Homo sapiens: one gene and its partner. The protein of the gene in region 2 purifies or fractionates together with the protein of the main gene of each other region. This does not show direct contact. Each region holds a gene or a part of one and is shown on either strand. Other genes may lie near its edges.

The links.
Region 1: the proteins of KCNN1 (region 2) and ERLIN2 purify together in Homo sapiens (affinity purification with western blotting; one study listed by BioGRID). This does not show direct contact.

The regions. Positions count from the first base shown.
Region 1 is NC_000008.11:37,743,134-37,746,633, forward strand, and holds part of ERLIN2 (erlin-2), read left to right. Parts: intron 1-1,221; coding exon 1,222-1,283; intron 1,284-1,437; coding exon 1,438-1,563; intron 1,564-2,435; coding exon of another isoform or gene 2,436-2,470; exon of another isoform or gene 2,471-3,417; intron 3,418-3,420; exon of another isoform or gene 3,421-3,500. UniProt on the Homo sapiens protein: Component of the ERLIN1/ERLIN2 complex which mediates the endoplasmic reticulum-associated degradation (ERAD) of inositol 1,4,5-trisphosphate receptors (IP3Rs) such as ITPR1.
Region 2 is NC_000019.10:17,965,858-17,969,906, forward strand, and holds the start of KCNN1 (small conductance calcium-activated potassium channel protein 1), read left to right. Parts: upstream 1-1,249; 5' UTR 1,250-1,292; coding exon of another isoform or gene 1,293-1,460; intron 1,461-4,049. UniProt on the Homo sapiens protein: Small conductance calcium-activated potassium channel that mediates the voltage-independent transmembrane transfer of potassium across the cell membrane through a constitutive interaction with calmodulin which binds the intracellular calcium allowing its opening.

The DNA.
Region 1 (3,500 bases), on a different chromosome or scaffold from region 2:
GGATGCTGGATTGGACAGAGACTTACAAGAAACATAAACAGAAGCAAGGGTGAGCATTGATTAGAACCTGGTTCAAAATTAACAGCTATAACAGATACGACAGAAACTATATGAGTCCACTCAGGCTGCCATGACAGAGGACTACACACCAAGGGACTAAAATAATAGATATTTTCTCACCATTCTGAAGGCCCAAAGTCCAAGATCCGGGTAACAGCAGGGGTAGTTTTGGTGAGACCTCTCTTTCTGGCTTGCAGGTGACCACCTTTTTGTCACATCCTCACAAGGCCTTTCCTCTGTATGTGCAAGAAGAGAGAAAAAGGTCTTTGGTGGATACCAGACCTTTTGGATTACAGCCCACCCTTATGACCTGTTTAACCTTAATTACCTTCTTAAAGGTCTAATCTCCAAATACAGTCACATTGGGGGTTAGGGCTTCAACATATGAATCTGGGGGCGAGGCATACACAGGTCAGTCCATAACACAAACTGTTGGGGAAATCTGAATAAGGACTGGGTATTAGGTGATATTACAGAATTATTGCTAATTTTCTTAGGCTTGGGAATGATACCATGAGTGTGTAGGAGAATGATTATTCTTAAGACAGTGCTCACCAAAGTAAAGGAGTAAAGTATCCTAACTGCAGCTTACTTTGAAATGTTCAGAAAAAAAAAAGGTCAATAAATAAGGTAAAATGTTATCAGTGTTGAATTCAGGTATCTGGATATGGATGTTAGTTATACTACTCTTTCGGCTTCTCTATGTTTGAAATCTTTTTATAATAAATATTTGAGGGCAAAGGGAGTGTGACACCAAAGTAATAGTGAAGACAGTTTAAGAAACATTGATCATAACATTCCACAGTAACCTTCTAAGTTCTGAAAACTTCACCTTGACCCTCCTTAGTCTTTTCCGTGCAACTGATTAATCAAAAGGCATTGCTGATTCCAAAGATATGAGTTACTCTTTCGTACTGGTCCCCAAAAGTCTCATTCATGTCTTTGTAGAGATGTTCCTAGGCAGTGTGATTTCTCAGGAGAGTATGTTGTTGCCATGAGCCCTGCAGAACCTCCCACTTGGAGATCCAAGCTGCCTTCCAACTTCCCGTGAACTCTTCTACTCCTTTTCTGCCAAGCCCCACATCTTACGCCATCACCCTGGGGGACTGCACCATATTCTAAGGCTTCCCAGTGACTTCTTGTCCATTCTCCCTCCAATAGTGGTGGTGTGATGATCTACTTTGACAGAATTGAAGTGGTGAACTTCCTGGTCCCGAACGCAGGTACGTCTTAACAGTTTATTCCCACCACCAGCTCACTTTCCCCAGCATGCCACTCCCGTGTCTGTTGTAGCACCTTGGAAAAGGAGAGCTGCCGTGTCTGAGGGCATTTTGAGTCTTGCCTTTTCTTATGCCAAGCCCTCTCCTTCCCTCTCAGTGTATGATATAGTGAAGAACTATACTGCTGACTATGACAAGGCCCTCATCTTCAACAAGATCCACCACGAACTGAACCAGTTCTGCAGTGTGCACACGCTTCAAGAGGTCTACATTGAGCTGTTTGGTAAGAAAGTCTCTCCTGAGCATGCCGTGCTTAAGCAGGGTTCCTGGAACCCCGCGTCTCTCCACTGCCTAAAGCCTGGCTGCCTGCAGGGTGTGATGGTCACTTATGGACAGGAAATGTTAAAGAATCTTGTGCTCAGGAGCTGGTCACAAAGGAGTTCATGGAGAATGCTGATAGCTATGCAACAAGATCCTTAGAGGGCTGGAGCTTTGGGCACAGGGACCATAGTGGAGTAGAGTATTCACTTCTGGCCTCAATCAGAGGCTGGAGTGGAAATGTGTTCCCACTGTTCCTAAACTATCATTCTATAATGAAGACAAGGTCCATTCTAGAAGAACCTTAGAGATTGTCCAGACCAGCATCCTCATTTTAAGCTGAGGGTACTGTGACCCAAAGCAAGAAAGTCACAGAGCCAGATGCCAATTAGTAGTGGGGCTGAAACAGGAGCCTTCCTCTCCTGGCTCTTCAGCATTCTTCTCACCATGCAACACTGAATGGAGGGCCCCCAGGAATGGGTGATGAAAAAGACATGATTCATAGTTAATTCTAGAAGTGAGATGAGAACCATAGCTCCTTCCAGTTCTCAGAACCTTTGTGATTATTATTTTTTTACTCTGTACCTGTAGCAACGAATAGAAAAACACTTTAAACAAAAAGATTCCACGTGCCTAAGTAGATATGTTTTGTCCTTTTTACCTTTTTCAAAGTAAAGGCAACCTGACTTAGCAGCAAAGGAAGGACACAGTTGGGTAACTGTTATAACTTGTTTGCAGTCAAGTATTCTGTTTAAACTCACTGCCAGAAATTCTCTAATAGCCAATGCCAAAAGTAAATGAATTTTTAACCAATAGTATAACTGTTCTTGACACTAGGACTGGAAAATGATTTTTCCCAGGAATCTTCATAAAAGGGACCCTGAGCAAGAACATTTTTCATAGCAGACAGGAGGACTCATCCACATCGCCAGCAATCATAATTAAGCAAACCGCCTTTTGCACCATTTAAGATTTAGGAAATCATCCAAATTACTTTTAATGTTTCTGCAGTAGAAAATGAATCTAAATTCATTTTATAGGGTTTGTAGTCTTTTATCTGTTTTGGATTCACTGTGCTTTTAAGAAAAAGTTGGTAAATTTGCCGTTGATTTTTCTTTTTAACCTCAAACTAATAGAATTTTATAAAATATTAATTTTCTCTAGCCATTGTCTTAGGACTTGTGACATTACATGAACATTTCAAAGCACTGAAAAAAGACAAAGGATCCCTAATGTCCCTGAAGAGGAAATTAAAATACAAAGTTGTTTTTCATTAGCAAACTTCTTACTTTCTTACAGCTAAACTTGGTAGCTTAGTGAAGTACAGCTGCTTGTATGGAGGAGCTGGGGAAATATATTTGCTTTGAAACTTTTTTATTTTTACATCTCAGTCTTGCTAGCAAGCACTACTTGGCTTAGAATCTGTCATATCCATAAAGGAGGAGCTCATGTCTCTAGTCCTGGCCCTTCAACTCAGAAGGTTCTTCTATACTTTCCTTCTCTCAGGACTCTTATAGCCCAGACTTTAAACATGAAGCTGCATAATTTTCATCACTTCTTACTCTGCCGCATCCTCTTTGCCCATGTTATTAAAGTATTATCTAATACTTTGAAGTTTACCTGAAGAACCTCTTTGTGTGTACTTAGTAATACAACTTTTTTTCCTGTCCCAACACCTTTTAATACAGTTGAATGGATAAAAACATGGATACAAACACATGGATATAGTTATCACTGAAGCAGTGTGACATAAAATAATACCTATGTATACAACACTCCTCTGTAAATAGCAAATGTAAAGTAAAAGATACACAACAGATCATTTTGTTTATCTCACTATCATTTATTAATCTATAATGTATCCCTCCTATGTATCCATGCAAGGAAGCAATACTAGCTGCC
Region 2 (4,049 bases):
AGCAGTCTGGACAGGCTGGGATGAGGAACGGGCTCTCCAGGGGAGGGAACAAAGGTCCTGTCTGAGACTCTGAGCCATCACCTGGCCCCTCTGTGACTCACCGCCACCCTCAGCCCATGCAGCTATCCCTCATTCATGCCTGCCTGCCTGCCTGCCTGCCTGCCTGCCTTCCTTCCTTCCTTCCTTCCTTCCTTCCTTCCTTCCTTCCTTCCTTCCTTCCTTCCTTCAGTCCAACTGTTTTCTGAGCTCCGCAGAGGAAACACAGAAGACAGCCTCCCTCAGGAATAAACACTCAGATGTTCCTGACCTGGGCCAAAGCTCTGGGCTGGGAAGAAAACAGATGGAGGGTGTGGGAGAGAGATAGGAGGTGGGATCTGCTGGCTCCAGGAAGCCCCCAGGCTGGTGGGGGACAGAGCTGAACACAGTCACCCCAAGCCTGGTGGGAACAGGGTGAGGCAGAGGCAGAGGCAGTAAGACTGGAAGAGGAGGAAGGAAGAGCTCCCTACCCACTGGTCCCCAAAGCTCCCTGGAGCCGCCATTAACTTTGAATGAATGAGTCGGCCAAGTTCAGCCTGGGTGCTGGGGGAAGGAGCACAGTTTTGGGGACCCCCAGCCCTGGTGATCCCAAACTCCCTGGGGCTCTGGCTTCCTGTCATCCTGGAAATGGGTGTTGGAGGTTAGGACTGGGTGGCCTGATCCAGACGGGCGTCTCTCCTCCCACAGAAGGTGGCCTCTAACCGAGTGCCCCAGCATGTACCCAGTCCCACCCCTGGAAGGCCCTACACCTGGCTCCCAGACACCCCCCAACTTGCAATCACCCTAGTCCCCCTCAAGGCTCCCCTATGCAGAGCTAGACCCCGGAGGAGGTCGTTTGAGGGGCAGGCATTGAGTTGCTTTGCAAAGTTGTCTTTCAGCTGATGCTTACGGGGAGGACAGTCCCCAGGCGTGCAAAGGTTGACAGAGCGGCTGAAGTTTGGGACCTAATTTTGGGGAGGGGGTATAGTTAGGAGGTCCGGAGGGCTGTTGGGGGCGGGGGTTGGAGCTTCACCAAGGTCCTTCCCGTCTTATGGGGCAAGAGGGGGAGTTCGAAGACCAGCCGCATGCCGGGGGGTTGCAGGGGGCGCCGGGGAATGTGGGATCTTTAAATATGGGCGGGGCTTGCGGGGTCGTCGAAGGCGGTGCCAACCCGGGCTCGGCCAATCGGCGGCGGCTCCCGCGTCGCACCGCCCCCTTCTCTCCCGGCCCGGGCGGGCGCTCGCCCCCCGCCGGGCCCGTGGACTGGGCGGCGGGGGATGCGCCTGCCGCCGCCGCCCCCGGCCCCGCCGCCCCCGGGCCCCGCGCCCGCTCGCTGCTGCCCGCCCCGTCCGCGACCCCGGCTCCGGCTCCCGACTGGGGGTCCGCGGCCGCGCGGGACCCTCTCCCCTCCAGCCTTGTCCGCCCGCTCGGGCCGAGCCCCGCAGGTACAGGGTGGGATGGGTGAGGGTGCGGGAGGATCCAGGATCTGCAGCTCAGGGAGCCCGAGGAGGGAGGCACGTCTCGGAGGGGGACGCGGTTTGGGGCAGGGGCCAAGAGGGAGGGTCTCCGTGCGGTCCGGAGCCTAGGAGACACAGGAAAGGTGGGGGGAATGAATGCATGTACATTGCCCGAGTGAGTGAGGATCCACGCACCCCCATCCTGGGAGGGGGAGGGTGCAGGGTTCACTTTGGGGGAGGGCAGAGCTGTGAGTCTCCAAACTGCATAGATAGGGTTGGAGGTCGGGGAGCTCTCAGGGATGGACAGTGACCCGCAATGACTTGGGAATGGGAGGGAGGTGACCCACCACTGGCCCCTGGATCCAGGGGTTGGGGCACTCAGGGAGGGGTCAGGAAACCGGGTCTTCCATCTCTCCCCGGACAGAAGTCCCGGACCCAGCTCGGGGCACTGCCCCTGCTGTTCTGGAGGGCTGGCCAGCAGATGGGAGTTCCCGAGGCTGGGGTCTGAGCGGTGAGGCTGATGGAGATGCATCAGAATGGAGGGCCCCCGAGGGAGGCAGCCTCCAGGAGAGCAGGCTAATTGCACCCTGCTGGCTGCTGGCAGGCTCCTGGCGGGTGGTGATGGGGGGATCGGGCGGGTAGCCAGCGCCTTGCTGCACTGGCTCCTGGGCGGCCCATGGGACGGGAGGGCAGGCAGTGTCTGTCTGCCCTGCAGAGCTAGGGCCCTGTGATTATTGGGGGAGGGGAGGGGAAGGGAGGGGTGGGGGTGGTGGCGGGAAGGGGGATCCTCGGAGACCTTCCTCAACCTCAGCAGGGACACCCGGACTCTGGCTGCGCCCGCTGGGGACCCACAACAGGCCCACATGTCCCAGAAGTTTCTGCTGTGTGCTGATCTGGTTGTGGTACCCGGAAGCCCCTGGGTGTGCATCTGGGGAGCAGGGGCGGTCTGCCTTGGGGATTGAGGGGCAGGGAGCACCTTCTCTTGGTCCAGTTCTGAAGAACAGAAATCAATGGCATGAAGCTCTTACAGACTGCAAAGCATTTGCCATGCGAGATCTTACTCTGTTCTGGACACCAACCCTCGTAGTGGGGGGGTGGGGGGGAGGCACCATGAGGAATCTTTACAAAGCAGGTGGCCAAGGAGTGGGCAGTAACTTGCTCCCTGGCAGGGGTACCTAGGGCCCCTTCTCAGTGGCTGCCTCAACCAACCTGTCATTTGTAAAAATGCTCGCTGGAGGGCCCTGGGGGCCTGACTGGGATTCTGTCTCTTCCCATGTCCTGTTGGGTGGGGAATCTAAGGAGCCATCAGCCCTGCTCCCTGCTACCCTCATCCTCTCCTCAAGAGCTCTCATGGGTCCCCCCAGGCACACGAGGTTCCCCCAGAAGTGTGTGTCTCCAGGGAGGGTGTGGAAGTGGGTCTCTGCTCATCCCCTGCACCCCAGGCTTCAGGGAAGGGAGCTCTCATGACCAGACAGAGTAGTAAAAGTAAGGCAATATCAAAGACCTTCCAACCCAAATACACCCCGTAGGATGTTTGTTGTTTGTTAGAGATGGGATATTGCTAGTTGTCCAGGCTGGTCTCGAGCTCCTGGGCTGAAGTGATCTCCTGCCTTGGCCTCTTGAATAGCTGGAACTAGGTATATACCTAGCTAATAGGGTGGTATTCCTCACTTGGCAAACCCAGGGCTGTTACCCAGAAAAACATACCCTTTCATGGGCATCCAAACCTTGGCTGAGGGTTCCCAGGGGCTCCTGGGTCTCTGGGAATCCCTGAGGGTCCCAGGGACTCCAGTGTTAGGCCCAGATTGCAGTGGGGGAGGGGATGTGTACCCAGGAATGGGGAAGGCCCAGGCACTCATCAGTTCTGTGCTCCAAGCTAGTGGCTTCTCGACGGCAGGACCAGGCCAGTTCCCCTCCCAGAAAGCAGACCCTGCCACCTGCCACGCCTGGATGGCACTAATTTAGTCCCTGCCTTTCCTGGCTGGGTGACCTTGGGCAAAAGGTGCTGAGCTTCTCTGAGCTCTGTCTCCCGTCTGTAAAATGGGAACGGGAATGCCACCTTGCTCACCGGTGGTGATAGGGATTAAATGTGATCACCCTGATCTCAGGCTCAAAGCATAGTAAGAGCCCGGTCCACAGTAATGTGGTGGGTGCCGGGAAAGCCCTCCACCCCTCCACCCCTCCACCCTCTTGGAAGCCACCTGCCATTTCTCTCCTCCTCCCCACCCCCTCCCTGCCCAGGGCACCTTAGGACGCGGCTGCCAGGCGAGGAGGAACATGGCAGACACACGGCTGAATTTGGCCCATGCGTCGGGTGGCTGAGTCACATCCCCAAATTGCATCTTCATTGGTGCGTTTCGGAAGGTCGTTTGCAGAGGCCATCGGAGGCCTACACCCCCTCTGGGTTCTGTCTGCCAGGCCACCCGCTTCTCATCCCTGTGCCCCCCATCCCCAGCTGGGGAAGTTTTGCACCCTCGGGGATGGTGGAAGGGGTGCCTGGGTTTTCCTGGGCCCCCTGGAGGAGGGCAGGATCTGGGGTTCCTGTGTGCACCCTAGTGCAAGCTCCCAGCCCCACCT